3 linked regions of the Homo sapiens genome follow. The protein of the gene in region 1 interacts with the protein of each later gene in a pairwise test. Each region holds a gene or a part of one and is shown in the gene's direction. Other genes may lie near its edges.

Region 1 (7,902 bases):
CCTGACTAATTTTTTTGTATTTTTGGTAGAGACAGGGTTTCACTATGTTGGCCAGGCTGGTCTTGAATTCCTGACCTCAATTGATTCGCCCGCCTAGGCCTCTGAAAGTGCTGGGATTACAGGCGTGAGCCACTGTGCCCAGCCTTTTTTTTTTTTTTTTTTTAACACGGAGTCTCATTCTGTTGCCCAGCCCGGCGCGATCCTGGCTCACTGCAACCTCAGCCTCCTGGGTTCAAGTGATTCTCCTGCCTCAGCCTTCCCAGTAGCTGGGATTACAGGCATGCACCAACACGCCCAGATTTTTTTTTTTTTTTTTTTTTTTTTTTTTTTTAGTAGAGACAGGGTTTTACCATGTTAGCCAGGCTAGTCTCGAACTCCTGACCTCACGTGATGTGCGTGCCTCGGCTTCCCAAAGTGCTGGGATTACTGGTGTGAGCCACCACGCCCAGTTTTTTTTGTTTGTTTGGTTTTTTTTGAGACAGAGTCTCACTCTGTCGTCCAGGCTGGAGTGCAGTGATGCTACCTCAGCTGACTGCAAACTCACTGAACCTCTCAGGTTCAAGTGATCCTCCTGCCTCAGCCTCCAGTTCCTGGCTAATTTTTTTAGTTTTCGTATAAACGGGGTTTCATCGTGTTGGCCAGGCTGGTCTGTAATTCCTGGCCTCAAGTAATCCACCCACCTCGGCCTCCCGAAGTGCTGGGATTACAGGCGTGAGCCACTGCGCCTTGTCTGCGCCCAGTTTTTGTTTGTTTTTTAAAGAGACGGGATCTCACTATGTTGCCCAGGCTGATCTTGAAGTCCTGGGCTAAATTTTTGTCACTGTGCCTGGCTAATTTTTGTATTTTTAGTATAAATGGGATTTCACCACATTGGCCAGGCTGGTCTCAAACTCCTGGCCTCGTGATCCACCTTCCTCGGCCTCCCGAAGGGCTGGGATTACAGGCGTGAGCCACCGCGCCTGGTCTGCGCCCAGTTTTTGTTAGTTTTTTACGGAGATGGGATCTCACTGTGTTGCCCAGGCTGGTCTTGAACCGCTGGGCTCAAATCATCCTCCTGCTTCTGCCTCCCAAAGTGCTGGGATTACAGGCTTGAACGACCATGCCTAGCCATAATTATCCAGCTATAAGGTCAGCTGATTAATTCGTCTCTCTATATAATAACATATTCACAGGTTGGGAGATTAAGATGAGAACATCTTTGGAGAGGACATTATTCTGCCTTTTAGAGAGAAGGGCCTAGGACAGGAATTCCCAGTGCTCAGGTTTAAAGGAAATATGATGTTCCCATCATCGGTACATGAACGTGCCCCTTTCTCTGCATTCCTACCAACACTGGATATTTTCCACTTTTGGGACTTTTAGCAGTTGTTGAGCCAGCCCATTTTACAGCGGGGATAATTGAGGTTTAAGGAGGGGAAATTACTTGCCTAAGATCTCATGCAACTTTCTGTTTCCTGACTCCCAGTCAAGTCTGATTCTCCCTTGGTATGGCTTATATGGGAGGATATTTACCTGGTGGCTTGGAAACCACTGAATGACTTTGTATCTTCCATCCATCCATGTATCCGCAGCCCAGCGAATGTATATTGGGAGCCTCAGACATGTGACCAGGGCCTTGTGGGCCAGAGGCAGCCAGGAGACCTTTTTTTTTTTTTTTTTTTTAAGACAGAGTCTCCCTCTGTCACCCAGGCTGGAGTGCAGTGGTGCGATCTTGGTTCACTGCAACCTCTGCCTCCCGAGTTCAAGAGATTCTTCTGCCTTAGCTTCCTGAGTAGCTGGAATTACAGGCGTCCATCACCATGCCTGGCTAATTTTTGTATTTTTAGTAGAGACGGGGTTTCACCATGTTGGCCAGGCTGGTCTCCAACTCCTGACCTCAAGTGATCCACCCACCTCACTCTCCCAAAGTGCTGGGCTTACAGGTGTGAGCCACAGCGCCTAGCCAGTGCTCTTGTCTTTTGAGAGCCCCCTTTTCTCTCACCTGATCTCCCTGCCCCCTATTTTCCCCTTTAGTCTCCTTTCCAGACGCTACTGAGTAGCTTCAGGGTCAGTCTAGAGATGCAATCCAGGTTGGGATCCTTGCTGGGAGAGCCCTTCCTTCCCTGGCTTTGTAACTCAGGGCCTTCTGGTGTGCACACCTGCAGGGTCCAGGCTGGGCCTGTGCTTCTAGCTTCTCTGTGTCTCTCCCTGAGATTGGAATCCTGGCTCTGTCCTCAACTAGCTTGAAGGGGGGCCCCCAGGAATGGCCCCTTCTGGATTTCATACCCTTGTGTAACCTTGTTTCACTTTTTAAAAGATTTTATTTAAAAAGTTTTTTTTTTGTTAGAGACAGGGTCTCACTTTGTTGCCCAGGCTGCTCTCAAACACCTAGCCTCAAGCAGTGCTCCTGCCTCAGCCTCCCAAAACACGCCCGTTCACTTTCTACCAGGGTTGTGTGTGACCAGCAGATGTGTTGGAAGTGATGGTGTGTCACTTCTGAGGTTAGGTCATTAAAGACGCAGCGGCTTCTATCTTGTGTGTGTTCTCTTTTTCTTGGGCCACTCGCTCTGGGGAAAGCCAGCTGCTGGGGCTTGAAAACACACACGCCTGGGAAGAGGCCGCACTGGTGAGGGACGGAGGCCTCCAGCCCACAGCTGTGGGAACGTGGGAATGAACCTTTTAGGAAGTGAATCTTTCGGCCCTGCTCTAGCCTTTAGATGACTCAGTCCTGGCAGCATCTTGATGGCAACTTCACAAGAGAGCCTGAGCCAGACCACCCAGCCTGGCCTCTCCTGGATTCCAGACCCGCAGGAGCCATGAGTTTCTTTGTTGTTTTACACATCAAAGTTTTGAGGCAATTTGTTACACAGCAGTATATAACTAATACACCAGCTGTAGGGCTTTGGGCACGTTCCTTAGCCTCTGCACCCCCGTTTCCTCCCTCGTGCCATGAGCATTGTAGAGGCGAGTGAGGAACACGTAGACGCAGCACAGTGCCACGCACATGAGGCAGCTTTCCAGCCCCTCCCGGGATGGTTGTGGTCATTTTCTTGCCCCTCCCTGGATGGACCGTGACCTCACAACGTCAGGCCAAGTTATTGCATTCTTGGCCTGAGGTCATCCATTGGCCATAGACAGAGGTTCTCGGCAGGAAAGGGTGAGATAAAGAGAGGGGTCAGTCTCTTTCCTCCAGCCCGGGTCGGGAGAACCGTGCTGGGCCAGGTGAGACATCCGCTGTCTGTGCGGTGTCCTGGGATGAGCCACTGGACCTGACCCATGGGGAGATTTGTCTGTGTCGCCAGAGGGCGAGGGGTTTCCTGGTCTAGCTTGCCTTGGGCTTGGCCAAGCATTCTGGCTGCCACTGGGGCCCCCAGGACAACTGAGAACTGTCCTTTCTTCTTTGACCTTCAGCTGCCCCTCTCTCCCCTGTCCCCTGGTGCCTGCTCAGATGCTTTCTTCTTGTGACCCTTGACCCTTGGCCCTTGGCCCCTGCCCCGAGGCTCCTCCACCCTGGGCTCCGTGTTCTAGAGTTCACTGTGTACTAGTTCCTCAAGCTGTTTGTCCTTCACTGCTTCCGATTTTTCTGTGCATTACTCAAGAACTGCATGGGCATGTGTCAGTATAAAAAAAAATAAAGTTGGCCGGGCGCGGTGGCTCACGCTTGTAATCCCAGCACTTTGGGAGGCAGAGGCGGGCGGATCACGAGGTCAGGAGATTGAGACCACGGTGAAACCCTGTCTCTACTAAAAATACAAAAAAATTAGCTGGGCGTGGTGGCGGGCGCCTGTAGTCCCAGCTACTCGGAGAGGCTGAGGCAGGAGAATGGAGTGAACCCGGGAGGCGGAGCTTGCAGTGAGCCGAGATCGCGCCACTGCACTCCAGCCTGGGCGACAGAGACTCTGTCTCAAAAAAAAATAAAGTTGGCCGGGCGTGGTGACTCACACCTGTAATCCCAGCACTTTGGGAGGCGGAGACAGACAGATCACTGGAGTTGGAGACCAGCCCCTGGCCAACATGGTGAAACCCTGTCTCTACAAAAAAATACAAACATTTGCCTGTGTGTGGTGGCACATGCCTGTAGTCCCAGCTACTCGGGAGGCTGAGGCAGGAGAATCGCTTCAACCCGGGAGGCGGAGGTTGCAGTGAGCAGAGATCGAGCCACTGCACTCCAGCCTGGGCAACAGAGCAAATTTCCATCTCAAAAAAACCAAAAACCCAAAACAAAAAAACACAAAAAAACATTATCGACATTAACAACTACAAGGCGCCCGGCTAATTGTATATTTTTAGTAGAGACAGGGTTTCTCCATGTTGGCAGGCTGGCCTCGAACTCCTCACCTCAAGTGATCCGCCCGCCTCGACCTCCGCCTCCCAAAGTGAGCCACCGTGCCCGGCCGTGAATGTGACTTGATAGCCCAGATTTCCTTCCGTGAACGCTTGTTAGTTGTGAAACTAGCAAAGTTGCGCCTCTGAGTTTACGCAGAGCCGGCTCCGGAATCCGAGTTCCGGGTTCGAGCACAGCTCCGCCGCTACCTCGGGCGTGACCTTGGCCGGAGCCTGGTCCCCTCTGAGCCTCAGTTTCCCGGTCTGGGATGCCGGAATGACAGCTCGCCCCCTGCCCCGCCCAGCCCCGCCCAGCCCCGCCCCGCAGGCCCTGGGATTGGTTCGCGCGAGGTCCCCCTCCCCAGGCGGGGTCGGGCCTCTCCCGCCCGCCAGGCCCCAACCCGGAAATGCAGCTGGAGCGGAGGCGGAGCCCACTAAGGCCGCGGCGGAGCGACGATGGGCGCGGCCAATGGGCGCGGGCGTCGGCTGCGGCGCGACGGAAGTCCTGCCCGGCGCCGCGCGGGGGCGGGGCGGCGCCGGGGGCGGGGGGCGGCGGGCGACGGGGCGGGCGCAGGATGAGGGCGGCCATTGCTGGGGCTCCGCTTCGGGGAGGAGGACGCTGAGGAGGCGCCGAGCCGCGCAGCGCTGCGGGGGAGGCGCCCGCGCCGACGCGGGGCCCATGGCCAGGACCACCAGCCAGCTGGTGAGCGCGCGGCGGCGGACTGGACGCGCCGGTTTGTTACCCTGCCGGGTCCGGCGGCCGCCCGGGTCCGGCGAGGCGGGGCGGCCCGGGGTCCCGAGGGCCGGGTGCCTCCTTACCTGCAGCCGGGCGGCCGGGCCGGGGATGGCGGGCGCCGGCCGAGGGCGCTGCTTGGCTGCGGCGGGGAGACCGGGCCTGGGTTGCGGCGGGCGGCGGCCTGGCCGGGGGCGCTGACAGACGCGCGGAGGGCGGGGGAGGCCGGGAGGTGTCACCCGGCCCAGCGGGGTGGAAGTGCCTGGAAAGTTTGTTTTCGGCTTGGCGCAGCCTGGAGCCGAGCCTCCAGGGTTACCTTTCGGTTCTGTCTGTAGAGGAACCGCCCTGGGCTTCCACCTGGAACGGGGTCCTTGGCGCCTCCGCCTGCGAGAGAAGCAGAAGGTGCAAGTTCTTGCTGAAAGCACCTGATGCTCCTGGGCCCCCTTTTCCAGATTCTTGATGACAGTGGTCGGGAAAACTCGCCTTTCACGGCCCGGCCAAGGGGCATTTGGGTGCTTTTGCTGCCCGTGGCTGTGCTCAGCGTTGTGGGAAGCCCCTGGGAGGCCGAATGTGCAGGATCACCGAGGGGAAAGTGAGCTTGACAGGTAGGAGGGATTTTAGGGGAAGGACCAAAACAAACCACTTGTTGGGTGAAATGTTTTGCTAAAAGTGTCGCTGGTGTTTCTATATTTTCTCTCTATCGCTAAAAGTATCCCTCGTGTTTTTATGTTTTCCATATGCTAAGTTCTACAGTCTGGGGACGACGGTTTAAAAATTTATGCCTTGTATGCGATGTGCAGTGGGTGATGGAAGAACGTCTACATGGCTTTAACATTTGATTTAAAAGGCAAATATTTTAAATGAAGGAAAACCCAAGAAATTTAATTGATCCCGTGTCTTCCAGGATGCGGCTTTTTTTTTTTTTTTTTTTTGATGGAGTCTCCCTCTCGACGCGCAGGCTGGAGTGCAGTGATGCGATCTCAGCTCACTGCAACCTCCATCTCCCGGGTTCAAGCGATTCTCCTGCCACAGCCTCCTGAGTAGCTGGGATTACAGGCGTATGCCACCATGCCCGGCTAATTTTTGTATTTTTAGTAGAGAAGGTGTTTCGCCATGTTGGCCAGGCTGGTCTGGAACTCCTGACCTCAAGTGATCTGCCCGCCTCGTCCTCCCAAAGTGCTAGGATTACAGGCGTGAGCCACCACGCCCGGCAGATGTGGCTTTTTGATAGGCGTTCTTGATCTTTTTTTTTGTGGGGCGGGGAGTGGGGGGTTGTGAGTCTGTTTGAGAACCTGAGGAAAGGTATGGGCCCTCTTCTGAGAAAAAGGCAGAGTGACGCTGAATTTTGTAACTACGTCAGGAGGCTCTTGAACTTTCTGCAGCTCACTCGTGGACTTTGTAGAGATGCGTGTTAAGGAAGAAGGTTCAGCTGAGAAAAATGTTGAAGGGATGCCTTTCGCTATTTCGACATGTGTGGCTGTACACCAGAGTGGCCCGGGTAACATAAAAACATGAATTAGGCGGATTGGCCAGGCTCAGTGGAGGCTGGGGCCGAGAGTTATGTCGAAGTTTGTGAGGTTAACCTGCACCCAGTGACAGTCATGGCGAAATTTGTGAGGTTAACTCGCACCCAGTAACGCTGTTCCAATGCAAGGTGTGTATTTGGTGTCATCCACGGGAAGAGGAAAGAGCAAATTTTCTCATGGCCTTGGCAGTTCCACATGATGGACATTTCATATCTGCAGTTTTCTTCGCATGAGATGGCTTTTTTGCACAAAAACACTGGAATCCAGTGAGCAAGAATGATAGAATGCAAGATGGATTTCCACATGAGGAAGTGTCACGAACGAGCGTTTTGCATCTGTCAGCTGGATTCCCCCATGTGTACGTATGTGAGAACATGCCGTGTTTCCTGTCTGTAATGGTAGAGGCAGCCCTGATCCTGGATTTTCACCTGAGGATGGATAGATCTTCAGGGTTCAAGTGGGTTTGCATCTGGACTTTAGGGTGGCCCTGTAGGCCCTGTGTGAGAAGCCCCCTTCCCAGTGAACTTTCCCTTGTGTGTCCGCGTGGACAGCCAACAGGGGGAGCAGTGCGAGCGTGAAGGCAGACAGTGGCCTGGCCCAGTCTGATGCTAAGTGGGCCAGAGGCAGTGAGTACCATTTCTTGATCTGACTACTCAAGACAGGCGCTTCCCTAGGTACTTTCACACCTCATTGCGAGGTAGGTGTTGTTCCCATTTTACGGGTGCAGAAGCTGAGCTGCAGAGGCGTTAGGTACCTGCCTCATAAGTGGTAGAGACTCCAGTGTCACCCTGCCCCTCACGTTCGGAGCCCCTGAGGGAGGGTCTGCCGGGCAGCTCAGCCCAGCACTCTGTAAGGAAATCTTCAGTGCCACTGCCCAGGATGTCTTCCCAGGGATTGGGCCTGAATGTCTTGACCATGCCGTGCTGGAGGTAGGAGGGGTGTCTTCATATGGAAGAACTGTACATATTTCTTTGGCAGATGGCTGAACTCTGTGACCCCGGGGCCTGTTTCAGCCTCCTGCTGTCAGAAAGCAGCTGTTTGGGAAGAGGCTGTGATTCGGCCTTGTTTGAGGGCCGATACTCTGAATGGGTGAGGCTTGAAATCCTCCCTTTGGAACAAAGAAACATGTAATGATTTTGCTGAAGGTAGAATTGGGGGACTAGGCAGAGTGGCCTCCTGCCCTCCCTAGGGTGGTTCTGTCTTTTGCAAAGGTGGCTGCATCCTTAGGGGAAGGTGAGGGGAGAAGCAGGGAGCATGGAGAGAAGTGGCTTTCGATTTTCTCTCTCCTTTTGGGGAGTTCCTCCTTATGTGGCTGGTCTGGTGCATAGTGTGATGTATTCC
Region 2 (7,036 bases), on another chromosome or scaffold:
TATACCCTCTTACTGGGTGGGGAATTAGCTTCTAGTCCTTCCATAGATCTTGCTTTTCTGTTTCCTTTACTATTTCTACATTTTCCTCCTACCTGCTCAGTTATGTCAGATTGTTCTTTTTTTTCCTCCAAAATATCTCCTTCACATGTATTTCTGAATTTTTCTTCTGTTTGCTCAGATCATTCCACATTGCAGTGTTCTATTTAAAGCTGAAAGGTTTTTGCTGTGTAGTTAGTGTGAAGGACTCTAAACTCAATTTGCATTGTAAGTGGTGACTGCAGGCAAGTTCATCCAGCTAAGAGCAATGCAAATGCTAAAGGACACTTTCACCCAAGCTCCCCTCTCTCAGTCTCTTTCTCTCTCTCTGTCTTTCTCAAAAGAATGCATGGTGTGCATTTAATAAATAAATTTCCTAGGACTTTTTTTTAATTCTGAGCATGAAAATTACCACCCTCCCCTACCTTTCCTCCTCTTTTAAAGTTAACATCTTTGAGCATCTTCTATGTTCCAAGCACTGTGCTGAGCTCTTTATGTATAGCATTTCAATATATCTAAACCCTGTTAAATGGATGTTGTCATTTCCATTTTCAAAGAAGGAAACTGATGCAACTGAGGTCTGAAGATGTTACTAATTTGCCAAAAGTCACACATTCAATGGAAAACCTTGTCTTCAAACTCAAGCCAGTGTCTGAAGGCCAGGTTCTCCCACTAGGAAATTCTGCACTACTTCATTTTCCTTTAACCATCAGCTCTTATTCTGGGAAAGATTGCAATGGTTTTATCTCAGTGTATAAGCTATATTTCCATCAGGCATAAAATCCTTTGCAGGGAAAATTTGAAGTGTGTGTATGGGGTTATATAGAGGAAGGGCCTTGGGTAGGGTTGAAATTTCCCACAAAAATAAAGTCAACACAATGGTTTGATTTTTTTTTTCAGATATGGAACCCCAGGTTTCCTAACCAGGGATTCATCTCTCAAATCTCTCTATATGTGGGTTTCCTGCTATATTTTTAGGCTTCTGTTACAGCCAAGTAAAACCCTATCTCCATTATAGCAGTCTGTGAGTTTTCTAGATTAATCTTCCTACTTTCAAATGGGGCCACAGATAGACCAAATATTCTACATAGATGGGGTGTTTTAAAATAACTGCTCTGTTCTCAGTTTCCTTAGCTGGAAAGTGGGAATAACAATAGAACCTATGCCAAAGAAAAATTATTTGATGCAGAGAAAGCACTCAAGCACTCGGGATATGCCTAATACAAAGCCCACCCTTAATTCATTATAGCTGTTATTGTTACTTAATGTACTTCCTGGTTATATTCTGGCAACAAGTGGGTTCCACCTTCCCTCAGAAGCCTTTTTAAAAAACTGTCTTGTTTATACATATTAAAGGAAGAACAAGTTTACTATTCCAAGTAGCTCCTTTCAATTATTGATTCATTCTGCCTTTAATTCCTTCAACAAATACTGACGTTTTGCAGAGGTGATACGGGATGTTCCAATACAGACGTGGTCTCTGTCCTCAGGGATCTTTCAATCTAGCAAAGGAGATAGTATGAGACAAATAATTTTGCAAATAAATATATAGTTACCAATTGTGATAAGTGATATTTAGGAAAGGCACAAGATGCCTTGGGGTCATAAGGTGGAAAGGTGGATCTAATTTAGATCGGGAGTTCAAGGACAGCCTCTCAGACAGCTGAAACTGAGAACTAAAGGATGAATTTGCAATTAACAAGACCTGAAAGCATTTTAGGTAGAAGGGACAATAGGTACAAAAGCCCAGAGAGATAAAATAGCCTAACTGATTCAAGGAATGGAAAGATGACTATGGCTAGGAACAGGGAGAAGAGTGATAAAAATGAGAATGGAGTCTGCAGTTCATTTTGAAATGTACCAGAAGCAAGAAAGATTAATGCTAAGAGAGAGGGATGGGTAAATGGATAGACATATGATAAAGCAAGTATAAAATGTTAGTCACTGGCCAGCCATGGTGGTGTATGCCTGTAATCCCAGCTACTCAGGAGGCTGAGGCAGGAAATCGCATGAACCCAGGAGGCAGAGGTTGCAGTGAGCCGAGGTCGCGACACCGCACTCCAGTCTGGTGACAGAGCGAGACTCCATCTCAAAAAAAAAGTTAATAACTAAATTGAGGTGGTGGGTCTATGGATAATCACTGTAATTTTTTTTCCACTTTGCAGTCTGTTTGAATTTTCATAATAAAATGTTGGGGGAAAAAAAGACTGGAGAAGTATTCAGGGACCAGATCATATCAAGCCTTGTTGACCACAAGGAGTTTGGACTCTATCCAAAGATGAATGGAAAGCCATTAAGGAAAAGGGAAACATGATCAGATTTGTTTTTCTAGAAGTTTAATCTGGCTGCTGTGTAGGATGGGGTTAGAGAGCCAGGCATGTAATGAAAAAGAATGAAAGTTGGGAGATAATTAGGAGGTCATGGTGTGCTCCAGGATGGTGGCATCAGTAGAGATGGAGAGAATTAGATGGATTTAAGATACGTAATAGAGAAAGATTGCATTGCACTTACTTACTATGATTGGGTGCAGATGGAGAAGGTGATGTCAAGGACAACTCCCAGAATTTTGCCATGAAAATGGATGCATAATGGGGCGCATCACTAAAAGCGGAAACAGACTGAAAACTGATTAGTTTGAGAAGACAGTGAGACATCTAGTTTCACAGTGAGACTTGCAAGTAGACAATTGGATTTCTGGGTCTGAAGCTCAAGAGAAAGACCTGGACTAGATAATAAATTTGAGATTAAACATCACCAGCATATTAAAGGTACTTAAAACTGTATGAATAGATGAGATGCCTCAGATAAGAACATTTCAGGGCAAAATTTGAACCAATGAGTGAGAAAGTACAAGGAAGTGGATCTTGGCTTGGTATGAAGAAATTGTAGCAAAAAAGTACCTCACAATAGAATAGGGCCTTGGTAAGCATAAATAACCACACACTGATATTATTCAAGTAATACTATAATATATGGCCATTTCTCAGCAATGTGGTAGGATAAGAAGAGTCCAGTCTTGGATGAGTTGAGTTTAGAACGTCTCCAGGTTTGAGATCTGAGTGATTTGTGAAATACATTAGCTTTTTAGGGCCACAGAGAGTAAAAGTGAGGAAGTAAAGATTCCTCCTCCATCCCCCATTCCAAATAAGCTCAAGAAAGGGGAAACTTATAATGAATAAAGCTGGGAAGGTACATGAAAATGGCTTTTGATATGAAGATGCTGGGAAGGCATTGAAAAAATAAAAGGGGGTAGTGTCATATGATGGAGAGCTGCCTCATAGTTCCTTAAGTTGCTTTGGTATTTGTATGCAAATGCCAGATCAGAATGCTGTTTCCAATGCATATGGATGAATGTTTGAGCTCTCTGCTGTTCTCAGAGAAACCTGAAATGCGAGGTGAGAAGTAGCTGCCTTACACTATTGTAAATGACCTTTCTGGGGATGGGAAATGTTCTGCTACTAAACATAATAACCAGAATGCATTGAAAATCACTAGCAAGTATTCATTATTAGCATCCAGGTCCCCAGGGGCAATCCCAAGCCCTTTATGAGTGCTGGTCAGAAATGTACCAATGATCCTGGGGTGAATAATATTAGGCCAGTCCTGTCAAAATATTGGTAATGCCCAATGAAAAGAGCACAGCTGTAGACTGACATTCCTAGACTTTGGCGTTTGCATTTAAGAAGAAATAGGGGTCCAATTTCGACACTTAGCTGAGGGAAAGAAACTAAGGTATCGCGAGTACTGTCTATTCCAGGCATTTTCCTAGGTATTTCTTATGTTTACTCATTTAATCTCCATCAACAACCCAGAGAGAATGGTTGCATTAACCTCATTTTTAAAATAAGAAATTTCAAGGTACAGAGAACCAAAGGAACTTGCATAACAAATACACATGTATTACAAACATACTCACTTGTAAGTGGCATAACCAGATTAGAGCTCATGACTGTGTGGATTCTTGGCACATGTTCTTTGCTCACCCATGCTGCTCAGGATCTTTTGGAGAAATGCAAGTTGTGCTCCACCCTCCACATATATCCCATTGGCGCCTGGTCGGTGCTGCTGGATTTACTTGATCTATCTTCTCCTAGCACAGCAGTGCACGTCTCTGGGCCTTTTCCATTATCCCACAGGGAGGAAGCTGAATTCTACGACCCAGTAACAGAATTCTTAGCTGACTTACTCCTGTAGATTTCTTCTGTTATATAATAAGAACAGAAAAAAATGTTTATGGAATTGAGCAATCAAGATGTGAGAACTAGCTGGAGTTTTTTGAATAGCTTTCTCCATGTCACTCATCCCCAGTGTAGGACAGTAAGCATGCAGCTCCCAGACTGAGCTGAGCTGAGATGGTCCCGCTGGGCCATCTAGGCACCCACTCTTCCCAGCTCATGACAACTCATATAGTTGCCTGGGCCACAGCAAGAGAAATATGACGGAGGCAGCTGTGGGATGGCAGATGTTCTTTTGCACATAAATATGTAGATGTCTGAGGCTTCACTTTGGCCAGAGTGGCTCTCCAGCTGGTTCCCCTCATCTTCCATTAATAAGAAGACGATTTTGCTTTCACCCAACTTGTCATCTTTACCACCAAATTTCCTTCTTTTGACTCCAATAGAACTCTAGAATCAGGCTGAAAGTCAGCCCCAACATAACTATCTCGCAGAAAGCACAGATTATTTTTATAAGTCCACTAGGAACTTTGTCAGAAATAACCCAGGAACCTTTGAGTTCTCCTGCTCCAAGTTCACTGTGGAAAGAGTTAATAGTGGGAAATATTAATTGTTAATGTTCATAGCTTTCTTTGGAGAAAGGGTCATCCTGGGTAATGAGAAAGGGTGTGTGCTTGTATGGGGGTAGTCAGACTTTCACTTCTGTGCTTTAGAGGTAAATGACTTGATCGCTTACAACAAATGTTAAATGAAGTGGGGTGGGGGTCTGTGTGTAAGGGGAAAAAAGATGTATGGAGTTTAGGAATCTAGAGGGGCCCTTATGAACAGGTTTTAACCTGAGAAGGATGGGGTCTGTTGGACGGAGCGTGGCGAAGAGTACCTTACCTGTGGGAGGATGTGTTTCAGGTGTACTGGCCTTTGTGCTTGGTGTATTAGTCAGCTCAGACTGCATTTTTAAAAACGCCACATACTGGGTTGCCTAAATAACAGAAATTTTGTTTTCTCACATTTCTGGAGTCTGGAAGTCCACGATCAAGGTGCCAGCATGGTTGGTTTCTGGTGAGTTCTCTCTTCCCATGTATAGCCAACTTCTTGCTGGGTCCTCATATGGCCTTTCTCCTGTGTGCAAGTGTGAAAAGAGAGAGCGCAATCTCTGGCATTTTTTTTTCTTCTTGCAAGGGCACCAGCCCCATAAGACCTTATCCTTATGACCTCATTTAATCTTAATTATCTCCTTAAAGGACCTATCTCCAAATACAGTCACATAGGAGTTAGGGCTTCAACATATAGATTGGGGTGGAGGGGGGCACAATTTGGTCCATAACACTGGGGAACTGAAAACCTCCTCCATCAAGCATTGCTTATCACACTGGTATGAATCCTTGCTAAGCAATGAACCTGAAGTGGTCAAAGAATGGCAGGCCGCCTCCTCCACTTGACGTAGAAGGATCAGCTTGATGTCCCTCTACAGACACACAAGGGTGTAGAGGGTGGCAAAGCTGTAAATGTCTCTAATAGGGAATATTGTAGCAAGATGCTGCTGAGAGTTCCCAGGTGGTCTGAAAGATAGAACTTGGGTCCCTAAGTACAAAATACCACCAGGAAGGACCCTACCACAGTGGGAGAGCCACACAGGAAACTCAGTGAAACTAACATTGCTTATGTAGCTTTGTAGAAGTCAGGTTAGGGCTAGAGACACTCAAGTTGGGAGGTCTGTTGGTTCATGCCAACTGCATTATTATAATTCACATTTCCCTCTGCCTTTATGTTTTTATTTATAAGTCAAATAATACTATATTCTTTCTTACTTAAAAGGATTCAAGCATGATAAGTAAATAAAGCATGAATCACCCTCCATCCCATGCCCATCCCACTTTCCTACCCAAAGGTTACCATTATCAGTAGTTGGTAGACTTCCTCAGAGCCATCTTTCTATTCATACATTTAAATATACATGTACAGATATATAGTTGGGGAGGATGTTTGCATAAATGAGTACACACTGCCCGTTTTATTTGCACTTTGTTTTTCTACTAGTGATACGTCTTCAAGATTTTTCCATATCAGAACACCTACATCTGTCTCATGCCTTTTAATGGCTGCACGGTGCTCCATAGTATGACAGTACCACAGTTTATTTAGTAGTTCCCTGTGGATAGAAAATCGTTTCCAGCTTTTATATTACATAAGATGCTGCAGTGATTATCTGTGTATATGTGTTTTTGTTTAAATGTCCTCCTTCCTGATTTTATTATCTTTAAAGCTGAGATGACAGTTCCCATTTCTTAGCAAAATGGCAAGAAAAAATCAGAAATCTGTGGTCTTCTATTTGTTTTCTGTGTAACCTTGGATCAGTCATTTAAACCAAGAACCTGAATTTCCTAATGTAGAGAATGAGAATACCTGATCTACCTATTCATATGTGCCCAGTACTGTGTCTTCCAAAACCATTGTGGATTTGAATGTTAATAATTAATAATGATTGCTGGTAGTTATGGAGGGCTTTCTGTGCACCAGTACAGGCTTAGAGCCTTAAAGTATTTTTCTCATGTAATCCAGTTTACTTGTATAGGCTGATACTGTTCTTATCCCCCTTTAAATGAAAAGTTAAAGCAGAATAATATGATTACTAGTCCATAGTTACACAACAGTGAGTAGAACAGAAGTCACATCCAGGTCTATCTGATTCCAAACCCTGTATTCTTAAACTTGGCAAAAATTCATCACAATGTAGTATATGAACACCTGTTTAAAAGAACAGTTATGATGTTGATAGGGAAAAGATGATTCATTTTTCTAAAAAATATTCTTCTGAATCAATCAAT
Region 3 (3,118 bases), on another chromosome or scaffold:
ACAGTCTTTTTTTCAACACTTTTATTAACAAAAGTAAACATGGACAGAACACACTGCCATTTCTGGGAAGAGTAAAGATGATAAAAAATAATTTTAATGGTTCTTAATGTGGAAATTCACAACATACTCAACTTTTGGGTTTTGTTCTCACAGTATTTTTCACAAAAAAAGGGTAAACTTATTCTATTGACAGACATGGTGTACTGATCAGAAATGTTCAGTTTTAACTAAAACTAAATTTATGTTATTTGGCTAAATGTTATGATGCAGTCTAGTACGAGTATTGCATCTAATTCCAGGAGCATTGTTTTAAGTTGATTGACTAGTTATTATGTACATTTCAGAATGTACACATAAATACTGTGATGAAAATCATGTGATTGGGATCTACTGTGATGTTGTCTTCAAAGGCAGGAGAAAATAATGTTCACAATAAAATGTGCTAACAATGTTTTGTTTCTATCAGCTGTTGCAATGCTGATATATTTCTAGTTCAGTGAAATAATTTGTAGTAACCTTACTCTGAGGTTTTACGGTCTGATAATGAAGCACTTGCATGAGTATAGTAAGTCATGTTTTTTTGTTCAAATTTAAAAGCCCTGCTAATTGCATGACACACCACATAGAATGTATACTAGCAGATACTATCCAGTGAAGCATAAATTAGAATTTAATTTGATGTTCAAAAACAGTTCCATTTTTAAGGGTTAAGGTGGTATTTTCAAGAAAAGGCAGAACAAATAATGCAAAATTCTCAGTAATAGTGATACATGGATATACTTCCTTTTAAATTCTCAGCTGCAAAATAATTGTAGACAAAATAATGGCATTTAACTAAAGATGGAGCATGATCTAAGTACATAGCACATGTGAATAAAAGAAAAGCTGACAGTATATTCTGGTTTCAATAAAATGACCTATCAGAAAGTAGAATTTCATCCCCAAGAGTATTTCAGTTTATCCAATATTGAGTAAGTTCTGAAACAGTTTTAGAAAAAATTTTCTTTTTGTTAAATGTGATGCACTGATCAATTTTTGTCACAGCATTTTCATACCTTCATGGTGGACTACTAGTCACTGCTTCCATAAATATTGTTTACAGGGTGAGATTTGGTTTATTCATCTTAAGTGCTGTAGCAAACTGTGGTTCGAGCAACCTGTGGGAAATCTGTGAGAGGGAATGGGGTGGGAGATGTGGGGGAATGGTGGTCAGACTGATGACAGATCCTAGACCAATGTAAAGAATGTGTATCTGTATATAAATAATTTATCAAATAGTTTTCTCTTTGTGTCTGTGTTAGTGTTTTTAAAGCTGCTCATTTCATTTTGTCCAACCAAAAAGAAAAGGGAGATAACTAATGAGCTTCTAGTGATGTTCAAAATTGCTGTTAATAGGCATTATACCCTGCAAGTTCACTGCATGTCTGATGCTTGGTAAAACTAGTCTTCCCTGTAAAATGCAGATTACAGGTATTAAAGCAATCTAGTGGTATACCCGCCCCTTGCCTTAGTAAGAGGAGCAGTGAAATGTATATAGTTGATGTTCAGTATTTCCAAGTACCATTTTTATATAGTAGCTTATTTGACCATAAGTCACACATCAAAAAAAGATTACCCTTAGTGTATGTGTTTTAATATTAGAAAATTGGCATATGTACTTTATTTTTGAAAAGGGAAGAGATGGGTGTGGGGTGGCAATAGCATTGTGCCATTTTGTCATAGAATGTAAAAATTGGTTAACTTTACAAATGTCAGCTAGTTTTGACTACTAATTGGGGGAAATTTTAGATAATTTTTAAATTCAAAGTTATTTATAAAATGCTAGAATTTGTTTTAATTTTTTGTATTTTGAGCCACTTCACATGAAGACTCAGTTGCATTTTTATCGAATACATTTTTATCAACAGTTAAAGACTATGGTGGTTTTTTCAGAGTTTGGCTAAGAATGTTGTTACCATCTTCTTTGTTTGTGGTACAATATTTTCAGTGCAAAAGAGATGTCATTCAGTTAAAAAGACAAACCTCTAGATGTGTAATTACATGGAAAATACTAGCAATGTGAATGCTTTTGTAGTAACCATCTTGTAGTACCTGTGAAATCTATAACTCAGAAATGGTCAGATGGTCAGGAGCCAGCTATGCAGCAGTATACCATCTGTTTAATTATTTTGTAGGTCCTGTGTGTGGAACCAACTATAAACCCAGTTCTAAAGTTGTGTATGATGGTGAACCTTTGGGAATAGTTCTTATCAACTTAATTGGATACTTTTAGCAAATAGGAACTTAATTCTCAGCACTGAACATGAATTACTTCCTTGGAGTTTTTTTTCATTCATATTTTTGTTGTTTCCAGGAATTTATTTGATATTAATGGGCGTAAAACAGCATCATTGTACTTAAGCTATGGATGTTTTTATTTTATATTTTCTTTATTTATAACTGTGCCAAGTATTATTTTGCTACTTACCGTGTTATTCTGTGGAAAGAAAAACCTGTAAAGTGTTTAATAAATTAGCCCTCCTTACATAAATTAAATGTCAAAATTTTGTAAAATATTAATCAGAATAAATACTGACTCTTAAGTGTGTGCTTATGATTTCACTCAATTTACTTCAGGAAATTGATGAAATGATAGTGGTACCTATGATATGAAAAGATTATACATTTATATCCTGGTTAACTAGGAGTCAAGTGGCATAAGACTGTAGGAATTTGGAAAAATAAAAGATGGTGTTAGTATTCTAAAAAAAAAAAAAAATTTCCAATCCTGTGTGTATGCATGTGTGTGTGTGTGTAATTTTTTTTTAAATAAAGATAATAAATTTTTTAAGAATTTTTGAATTCCATGTAGTTAATTAGGATCCTCAGGGACTGTATGAATCTCCAAGTTTTAAATATGTCTAAAGATACTAAAGAAAAATATTGCAAAATGTACTATATAAAGAAAAATACTGCAGAATGAAACCTACCAAACGTTGATCTCAGTTACTTGAGAAGATATGCGTGGCAGAGAGAACTTCTTTATTTGGGACTTTAAAAGGCAAAAATTATTAAGGAACTGTTTCCTGTTGTTCCAGTGGTTGTTAATGGTTTGAGAACCCAGTGGTATTAAACAGGA

What was found. Proteins that work in one complex are often made in the same cells at the same time.
Region 2: the proteins of PDPK1 (region 1) and PPP2R2B interact in binary tests that used the Homo sapiens proteins (3 or more experiments, as listed by UniProt).
Region 3: the proteins of PDPK1 (region 1) and ZDHHC17 interact in binary tests that used the Homo sapiens proteins (3 or more experiments, as listed by UniProt).

The regions. Positions count from the first base shown.
Region 1 is NC_000016.10:2,533,132-2,541,033, forward strand, and holds the start of PDPK1 (3-phosphoinositide-dependent protein kinase 1), read left to right. Parts: upstream 1-4,889; 5' UTR 4,890-4,981; coding exon 4,982-5,005; intron 5,006-5,487; exon of another isoform or gene 5,488-5,640; intron 5,641-6,704; exon of another isoform or gene 6,705-6,919; intron 6,920-7,902. UniProt on the Homo sapiens protein: Serine/threonine kinase which acts as a master kinase, phosphorylating and activating a subgroup of the AGC family of protein kinases.
Region 2 is NC_000005.10:146,868,722-146,875,757, reverse strand, and holds part of PPP2R2B (serine/threonine-protein phosphatase 2A 55 kDa regulatory subunit B beta isoform), read left to right. Parts: intron 1-7,036. UniProt on the Homo sapiens protein: The B regulatory subunit might modulate substrate selectivity and catalytic activity, and might also direct the localization of the catalytic enzyme to a particular subcellular compartment.
Region 3 is NC_000012.12:76,851,115-76,854,232, forward strand, and holds the end of ZDHHC17 (palmitoyltransferase ZDHHC17), read left to right. Parts: 3' UTR 1-2,582; downstream 2,583-3,118. UniProt on the Homo sapiens protein: Palmitoyltransferase that catalyzes the addition of palmitate onto various protein substrates and is involved in a variety of cellular processes.